Regions from separate parts of the Homo sapiens genome. Here all the other regions are reported to be linked to region 1. Evidence: microRNA targets listed by miRTarBase, many of them from high-throughput screens and not tested one by one. Region 1 holds a microRNA gene; each other region holds the end of a gene's coding sequence.
What was found. The annotated mature microRNA hsa-miR-6840-3p reads GCCCAGGACUUUGUGCGGGGUG and lies in region 1 at 1,808-1,829, opposite strand. An mRNA with a match to its seed (bases 2 to 7 or 8) in the 3' UTR can be bound and repressed. Matches are read on the target gene's strand: a 7mer-m8 pairs with bases 2 to 8, a 7mer-A1 pairs with bases 2 to 7 and ends in A, and an 8mer does both.

Region 1 (3,116 bases):
GGAGGGGGAAGAGATGGCGGCACCCACCCCTATGGGACCCGCCCTTGTTTGCTGGAGGTGGGAGCCTGGCCCCTGCCCCAGATGTTCTGCCTTTGTCTTGGGTTGGCCCCTCCTGTGGTTTGGGCAGAGACCATACCTGGGCGGTCCTGGGTACTCACCAGGCTGCAGAAATGCTGGCGGCTGCAGCAGGAGCAGCAGGGGCAGCAGCAGGGGCCGACCCATGGCCTTGTTCTTCTCCAGGGGACGGGGAGACCAGCAGAGCTGTCCAGGCAGGAGAGGGGCCCTGTGGAGGGGCTGCCTGAGGGCTGAGGTGAGTGGGGAGAGCCAGGGTGAGGCTCCCCAGAGGGCTGTGGGGGCCGGGGACCTTCCCCAAACCAGTACACCTCCAGGGTGACCAGCACTTCCTTTATCCATCTGGCTTCTTATTGCAAAAGGGCCTTAGGTGCCTTTTTATCCCTTGCCTAATTGCTCCGGCCAGGACTTCAAATCCTTTTTTTTTTTTTTTTTTTAGTAGAGATGGGGTTTTGCCATGTTGGCCAGGGTGGTCTCACACTCATAGGCTCAAGTAATCTGCCCGCCTCAGCCTCCAAAAGTGCTGGGATTACAGGCGTGAGCCACTGTGCCCGGCCTGACTTCAAATCCTGTGTTGAATAGAAGTAGTGAGAGCGGGCATCCTTCTCTTGTTCCTGATCTTGGAGGCAAAGATTTCAGTCTTTCATCTAAAATGACTGAAAGACTTTCAGCCATGGGCCTTGCATGACTGGCCTTTATTTTGTTGCAGTACATTCCTTCTCTTCCTGGTTTGTGGAGTGTTTTACCAGGAAAGGGTGTTCAGGCTGGGCACAGTGGCTCAAGTCACACAAAAGTGTCAAGTCAGCCCTGCCCAAGGGCCCCAGTGCCCATCTTCCTGCTGAGGGGCTGGGCCTCACCTTGGCTGGCTGGGCCCCTCCCACCTGGATCCCTGCAGACCCCACCGCACTCAGCCTCACTTCTCATCCCTTTCTCTGTCCAAGGCCAGCGCAGGCTCTTTCAGGGAGAGGAAAGGCGGGCCTGAGTCTGTGCTCTGCTGCACCCCAGATTCAGTCCTCAGAGAGGAGAAGGAGGAAGCCAGTGGAGGTCACAGGCGCTCAGCCCCCAGCCCAAGCACCAGAGCCCCCAGCTTGTCCTCTGTCCCTCTCCCTCCCTGGCAGGGGCTCCCATGCAGTCCCCAGGCACCACCACAGCCCAGCTGGCCTCTTCCCACCCCAGGCCTGCTCCCTTGGTGCAGGGACCACAGTCTTGCTCAAGGGGTGAGGGGGCTGACGGTCCCCTACACAGAGACTGGTCCCTCTCGAGGCCACCCCTTGACCCCCAGACATGAGACTGGATCTGCAGGGTCCCCTCTGACCTCCCTGCCCTACACAGGAGGGGACAGAGCTTGGAGAAGCCCTGTCCCAGGCCACATGACTTGCAGGGCAGTCCCAGGACTGGAGCCCCCTCTACCTGGATCTCTGGGCCTCAACTTCTGAGTTGCAGGAACTCAGGCATAGGGGAGCCCCAGGAGGTTGTTCCCTCATACAGCCCCTCAGGTCATTCCCTCCACACACCTGAGCCTATGGCTGAACCAGGAAGGTTCCTTGGTGCCAGGGCAGCTGGACTCACCCTGGGTGATGGTGAGGTGGGTCCCCTTGATGGACTGCCACGACAGCCTCCCTGATCTGTATGTCCAGCTGGACTTGGCAGAAGTACACAGACTGGTCCTCCTTCCGCAGGTTCGAGATCCTGAGGAAGCCTCCCTGAGGAAGTGAAGGCTCAGAGCAACAGTGGGCACCCCGCACAAAGTCCTGGGCCCGTCTCTAACAGGGGATCTGCAGGTCTTTGCCCGGGGGTGGTCACTGGAGCTTTGGTGACCCACAGGGCTCCCTCCATAGGAGGCTCTGCCCATCCTCTCCAGAGTAAGGTGGCATCAGCTGAGGGGCCGTGGGGACAGGAAGGCAGGATTTCACCAGAGGAAGTGATAACAATCTTCTTGAGACAGAAGCAGGCAGGGACAGGCCTCCCTTCTCTTGTCAGTCTCTTCCCTGGTCCCAGTAGGCTCCTCTGTGCTTCCCAGGGCCAGTCAGGCCGATCCACCCTCCTTCCCTTCACAGGTCTGAGGAAACAGGCTCCCCATGCTCAGGAAACCCCTCCGTCTGAGCCAGGCCCTATACACCTCATTCTCCTTGTTCAACCCACAGGGAAACTGAGGCACCGGGGCTTTGGACTGAACTGGTCCCACCTGCAAAGGTGGGCCGAAAAGAGGACAAGGGACCCCCTGGCTGTTTGGGCAAGGCCTCAAGAGGGTGGCCCACCCTGCCTGAGGACTTTTTGTTTTTTTTTTTTGAGATGGATTCTCGCTGTGTTGCCCAGGCTGGAGTGCAATGGTGTGATCTTGGCTCACGGTAACCTCTGCTTCCTGGGTTCAAGTAATTCTCCTGCCTCAGCCTTCCAAGTAGCTGGGAATTACAGGTGTGTGCCACCACACCCAGCTAATTTTTATATTTTTAGTAGAGACAGGGTTTCACCATGTTGGCCAGGCTGGTCTCAAACTCCTGGCCTCAAGTGATCTGCCCACCTCAGCCTCCCAAAGTGCTGGGATTATAGGCATGGGATACAACACCCAGCCACTGAGGACTGACTCTTCGTTCCATTCCTGCCTTGCCCGTGGCCCATGGGACCCAGCTAGAAGGTCACCTGCTTACCAGGCTGCCCAAGGAGGGGGCCACATAGAACTTTTAGCCAACAGCCTCTGGGTAGCTCTGGAGGGTACATACTCCCCAGGGGCCTCAGGCCCGGTACCGCCACGTGCATTCTCCTTAGATGCAAGGTGCGTGTTTATGTCACTTTCCGGGCTCTGGACCCAGCTGAACCCCCATGGGAGATTCCTTTTGTGTCAGGATTTCTGCTCTGGAATGGTGTGAGGCCTCCCGGATGGTTCATCCTCCCTCCCCCAACAGCAGTGACAGGGCCTGGGGCTAAGCCTGGGGCTGTGGCTCTCTCTCAGAGGGGGGTTTTGGGAGGCACCGGCCCTGGAGGAGGGCATGATTCCAACATGGGCAGAGTCTAAATCCAGCCCGTTAGCCCAGCAGGTGGCCATG
Region 2 (3,069 bases), not on the chromosome of region 1:
AGGGCTTTTAAAAAGCCAGTTGGACTTTAAAATGTTCTAAATGAAACAGTATGTTATTAATTGTATTAATTATGGACATCTATGTAGATGTCATTTTATTATTCTGTGGGACAAAATGGGAAATACACTTAAAGCACTTCTGCAAAGAAAAGCATTTCCTTGAGTGTCTGAGTTTCAGGCTGAACTTGACACTTTTTTCTTGGAACATCATTTTTATTTGAAATAATGACTGACAAACTATAGTTCATCATATACAGTTATATAGTAAACACTTTCCTAAAAATGAGGAAAGTGAATCTATCACTTCAAAGAAAGCAACTGACAACATTTGTCATCAATGATAAGATGAGCTTTTGGGGGGGAGATGGAATTTTGTAAAACATATTTTTCACTGTGAGCTTGACAGCTTCCCAATACTGCAATACTTTCCTGATGAGATTGGTGAAGACACTAACAAAATGATTTCATGGTAGTATACAATAAAATGCATCAACACTTGGAATATTTGCTTAACTCAGCGAATAAATATTTTCAAGATGAGCAATGCCTGATATCACAAAATCATGCATTAGTAAAAAAAATCATTCAAAGTACAAAATCAACCAGTGCACTTTAATGTAATAGCATTTGAAAAATGTTCACTGATAATGCTTTCAGATCCACACCACAATTAACTTTTAAGAAACTGCCATCTGCCTTTGTAGAATCAAAATATATCCCAAAATTACCTGAAAAAGCTATTAAAATACTTCCTTGTATTCCAACTGTATATCTGTGTGAGACTGAATTTTTTTCATATACATCAACCAAAACAATATATTGCAACAGAGTAGATGAAGAAACTGATATGAGAATCCAGCTGTGTTCTATTAAGCCAGGGAATAAAGAGATTTGCAAAAGTGTAAAACAATGTTACTCTTCTCAGTACCTTTTTTTTAAATAGCTTTTTACATAACAATGGGTTATTTTTGTTAACACGTAATGGGTTTATTATTGTTACTTCTAAAAAAGTTAGTAAATAATTACTTACATTTTCTCCTATTTAATTTCGAATAGTCAATATCATCAGACATAACCCACATAAACAAAGGCTCCTCAGCGTCCTTTAAAAGTGAAGAGTCCTGAGATCAAAATGTTTAGGAAGTGCTGGCCTTAGATAACACATCTGAGAAGTGATGAAGCCGGGTCTATGTTCATCTGGCTCCCAAACCCATTTTGTTTCCAGGATACGATGTTGCCTCCTTACCCAAAGTCTCATCAGTACTAAAATAAAAAACAGAATTGGATTCCTAAAAGCTTTATTTTGCAATGTTTTCCATAATACTTAAGTTTTTCAACGTTTAGATATTTTTCTTTATTGAAGGATGAATTTCTTTTTATGGCTTGTTTTATATCGTGCAATGTTTTTTCTATAATGTTTAAGTTTTTTTATGTATGGGTGTGTGTGTGTATATATATATATTTTTTTCTTTTTCTTTTTTTTTTTTTTTTTTTGAGACATAGTCTCACTCCGTCGTCCAGGCTGGAGTGCAGTGGCGCGACCTTGGCTCACTGCAACCTATGCCTCCTGGGTTCAAGCGATTCTCCTGCCTCAGCCTCCCAAGTAGCTGGGACTATAGGCACATGCTACCACGCCTGGCTAATTTTTTGTATTTTTAGTAGAGATGGGGTTTCACTGTGTTAGCCAGGATGGTCTCAATCTCCTGACCTCATGATCCGCCCGCCTCAGCCTCCCAAAGTGCTGGGATTACGGGAGTGAGCCACCATGCCCAGCGATGTTTAGATGTTTTTGCGGAAGCAAAAGTTTCTTGCCCTAAAGCTTTAGAACTCCATTAGGTATTGAAGATGACTCTTTGGGGCTATAAAATAAAATGCAGTAAACATACTAGTTTTATATTGCATGCAAAGTCCAAATAGTTGAGAAATGTCCTCTATTAGATTTCACAAAACAGAAAGAATTCTGAGCCAGGCACAATGGCTCATGCCTGCAATCCTAGCACAAGAGACTGAGGTGGGAGAGAATCACTTGAGGCCAGGAGTTTGAGACCACCCTGGGCAACAGAGCAAGATGCCATCTCCACAAAAAATTAAAAAATTACCCAGGTATGGGCCGGGCACGGTGGCTCATGCCCGTAATCCCAGCACTTTGGGAGGCAGAGATGGGTGGATCACGAGGTCAGGAGTTCAGGACCAGCCTGGCCAAGATGATGAAACCCCGTCTCTACTAAAAATATAAAAATTAACCGGGTGTGGTGGCAGTCGCCTATAATCCCAGCTACTTGGGAGGCTGAGGCAGAGAATTTCTTGAACCCAGGAGGTGGAGGTTGCAGTGAGCCGAGATTGCACCACTGCATTCCAGCCTGGGTGACACAGCGAGACTCTGTCTCAAAAAAAAAAAAAAAAAAATTACCCAGGTGTGGTGGCCTGTACCTGTAGCCCCAGCTGCTCTGGAGGCTGAGGCTGGAGGATCGCTTGAGCCTAGGAGTTCGAGGCTGCAGTGAGCTGTGATGGTGCCACTGCACTCCAGCCTGGGCAACAGAGGTAGATAGATCTTGTCTCTTAAGAACAAAAAAAGTAATTCTAATTCTCTGGCTCTGGGCTGATTTTTCATCCATTGGGACTAAGCCCCAGGAGTTACAGTGATGTCCCGGGGGGGCCAGCCTTGCTGGGGGATGCCCTTAGGAGGAATTCTTGCATGCCCTTCCTCAGCCGTGCATTCTCCGCGACCTCCCTCAGGCTTCTGTGCAGCTTCTCCATCTCCTTGTATTCACTCCCGACATCTACAGGAGAGCAGAAAGCTCACATCAGGACTTGGTGTCCGTTGCAGAAACGTCTCCAGAAAGCAAATCCCCCAACAATCCTGTCACTTGTCCCAGAATATGAGATCTGGAGTGGTGCTTACAGATCAGACATCAAAGCAGGTGTTCCTCCTCTTACCAGAAAGCTTTCTCAGCATGGGGTCACCCTCAAAAGAAACCCAAACCTACCCATAAGAAAAACCCTGAGAAGTCACTGGGTCTGTATTAAGGCTTCACAGGTGTGTGATATACAAAGCATGTTGCACAATAA
Region 3 (3,069 bases), not on the chromosome of region 1:
TAACCTGGACATAGAGTCTATTGATGCTCTAGGGGAGGCCATCAATGAATACAAGGGTGGTAAGTCAGCTGAGAGTGTGCCCTCATCCCTGCTCCATGGGGACCAAGCTGTAGTGTCCTTCACTACAGAAGGGCCTAGGACTCCCTTATTTCATGTTCTGATTCCCCTCTTTCTCCTTTCTTCCTGCCCTCTGTTGTTGCTATCTTTCTTCAAAGCTGTGATCGTTGTCAGCCATGATGCCCGACTCATCACAGAAACCAATTGCCAGCTGTGGGTGGTGGAGGAGCAGAGTGTTAGCCAAATCGATGGTGACTTTGAAGACTACAAGCGGGAGGTGTTGGAGGCCCTGGGTGAAGTCATGGTCAGCCGGCCCCGAGAGTGAGCTTTCCTTCCCAGAAGTCTCCCGAGAGACATATTTGTGTGGCCTAGAAGTCCTCTGTGGTCTCCCCTCCTCTGAAGACTGCCTCTGGCCTGCAGCTGACCTGGCAACCATTCAGGCACATGAAGGTGGAGTGTGACCTTGATGTGACCGGGATCCCACTCTGATTGCATCCATTTCTCTGAAAGACTTGTTTGTTCTGCTTCTCTTCATATAACTGAGCTGGCCTTATCCTTGGCATCCCCCTAAACAAACAAGAGGTGACCACCTTATTGTGAGGTTCCATCCAGCCAAGTTTATGTGGCCTATTGTCTCAGGACTCTCATCACTCAGAAGCCTGCCTCTGATTTACCCTACAGCTTCAGGCCCAGCTGCCCCCCAGTCTTTGGGTGGTGCTGTTCTTTTCTGGTGGATTTAATGCTGACTCACTGGTACAAACAGCTGTTGAAGCTCAGAGCTGGAGGTGAGCTTCTGAGGCCTTTGCCATTATCCAGCCCAAGATTTGGTGCCTGCAGCCTCTTGTCTGGTTGAGGACTTGGGGCAGGAAAGGAATGCTGCTGAACTTGAATTTCCCTTTACAAGGGGAAGAAATAAAGGAAAGGAGTTGCTGCCGACCTGTCACTGTTTGGAGATTGATGGGAGTTGGAACTGTTCTCAGTCTTGATTTGCTTTATTCAGTTTTCTAGCAGCTTTTAATAGTCCCCTCTTCCCCACTAAATGGATCTTGTTTGCAGTCTTGCTGACAGTGTTTGCTGTTTAAGGATCATAGGATTCCTTTCCCCCAACCCTTCACGCAAGGAAAAAGCAAAGTGATTCATACCTTCTATCTTGGAACATGGGTCTCTTTCCTTTTTTTTTTTTTTTTTTTTTTTGACAGAATCTTGCCCTTTCACTCAGGCTGGAGTGCAGTGGCATGATCTTGGCTCACTGCAGCCTCCACCTCCTGGGTTCAAGCAATTTTCCTGCCTCAGCCTCCCGAGTAGCTGGGATTACAGGCACACACCACCAGGCCCAGCTAATTTTAGTGTTTTTAATAGAGACAGGGTTTTACCATGTTGGTCAGGCTGGTCTCGAACTCTTGACCTCAAGTAATTCACCTACCTTGACTTCCTAAAGTGCTGGGATTATAGGGATGAGCCACTGTGCCCAACTTCTTTTTTTTTCTCTTTTCTGAGACAGGGTCTTGCTGTGTTGCCCAGGCTAGAGTGCACTGTACCCTCAACCTCCTGGGCTCAAGCAATCCTTCCACCTCAGCCTCCTGAGTAGCTGGGACTACAGGCATGTGCCGCCACACTCAACTAATTTTTTTTTTTTTAATTTTTAGTAGAGACAGTGTCTTGCTATGTTGCTTAAGGCTGGTCCTGAACTCCTGACCTCAGGCAGTCTTCCTACCTCGACCTCCCAAAGTGCTGGGGTGCTGGGATTATAGACGTGAGCCACGACGCCTAGCCAGAATTTGGGTCTCATTGTCCAAGTTAATCTCATGAATGAGGAGGTGCTCTGCCCTGTGGCCAGGGACCAGGGTATTGATTCTCTCAAAAATTATTAAATCATCTAGCCAAAATGTACGGTACTGTGGGGTATATAAGAAGGGAAGAGACAAGATCTGCCTTCATTAATAGTCTGGTTAGAGAAGACTTAAAAGTAAGCATGAATAGATAATTAATTTGATCAATTGTCTAATATGTCGTACTCTAGATTCTAAGTTGCCACATACTCAAAAAAGGGAAAGATTATCCAGGGCCTGATTATTTGACAGGGTCACTTGAGGGTAGATCTTGAAAAATGATGATTTGACTAATCAGGGACCAGGGAGCCATTTTTCAGAAGTAGGAAAAGAGCAGATCTCAGGCTTGGGGGGAAGAACAAGCTACTTGGGAGTTAATGGATGATAGCTGCTGTGGCCATTTTTCTTAAGAGTTAGACTGGGGAGATGGGTTTGGAAAGTAAAATGCAAATGGTGGGTAGTGGTATTAGGTGGTGATGTGCAAGGCGTGCTGTAGAAACCTGCAGGGTGAAGCCCATAACTTTTGTTACGGGAATGGGGTAACTGAATCCTAAACTAGCTAGGGGAGATAGGGATGGAAAGAGCAGATGTGGAGGTTGGGGAGAAGGGAGTGACAGGAGATATATCCAGTTCCAGAGGGAATAGGGAGAGCTGTGTGGCTAAGATTTAACTGTTTGGACATTTAATTTGGGGAAATTGTTTTCCAGCCAAGTGAATAAATAATACTGGACTTCAAGTACAAGCTTCATACAGGAAGTGAAGTTTTGGTGTGGAGATAGCTGCATAGTCAGGGAACACTCTAAATTAAAAATAAGGAGGCCGGGCATGGTGGCTCATGCCTGTAATCCCAGCACTTTGGGAGGCGGGCAGATCATGAGGTCAGGAGTTCGAGAGCACCCTGACCAACATATTGAAACCCCATCTCCACTAAAAATACAAAAAAATTAGCCGAGCGTGGTGGTGCACACCTGTAGTCCCAGCTACTCAGGAGGCTGAGGCAGGAGAATTGCTTGAACCCGGGAGGCAGTGGTTGCAGTGAGCCGAGGTTGCGCCACTGCACTCCAGCCTGAGCAACAGAGCGAGACTCTGTCTCAAACAAAAACCAAAAGACATCAGGAAACATGCCTCTTATGGAATTTGAGGGGGAAAAGTCAGGGTCTTGGCAGTGACCTTGGACAAGCCA

Region 2: the mRNA of NUGGC is a reported target of hsa-miR-6840-3p. Seed matches in the 3' UTR shown: 7mer-m8 at 2,627-2,633 and 7mer-m8 at 2,310-2,316.
Region 3: miRTarBase lists ABCF1 as a target of hsa-miR-6840-3p. The part of its 3' UTR that is shown has no 7-base or 8-base seed match.

What each region holds. Positions count from the first base shown.
Region 1 is chr7:100,355,409-100,358,524 of GRCh38, reverse strand. MIR6840 (microRNA 6840) reads right to left here and starts at 1,874; the gene lies at 1,804-1,874. PILRB (paired immunoglobin like type 2 receptor beta) reads right to left here and starts at 408. Exons shown (of 4, transcript NM_178238.4): 1 at 159-408. The coding sequence starts at 222. It overlaps STAG3L5P-PVRIG2P-PILRB (STAG3L5P-PVRIG2P-PILRB readthrough), which reads right to left. Exons shown (of 17, transcript NR_036570.1): 13 at 1,642-1,775; 14 at 159-305.
Region 2 is chr8:28,020,683-28,023,751 of GRCh38, forward strand. NUGGC (nuclear GTPase, germinal center associated) reads right to left here. Exons shown (of 19, transcript NM_001010906.2): 19 at 1,282-2,780. The coding sequence ends at 2,635. Among named protein-coding and RNA genes, the nearest start is that of SCARA5, 30 kb to the left of the region's middle.
Region 3 is chr6:30,590,320-30,593,388 of GRCh38, forward strand. ABCF1 (ATP binding cassette subfamily F member 1) reads left to right here. Exons shown (of 25, transcript NM_001025091.2): 24 at 1-59; 25 at 216-1,203. The coding sequence ends at 382. Among named protein-coding and RNA genes, the nearest start is that of MIR877, 7.5 kb to the left of the region's middle.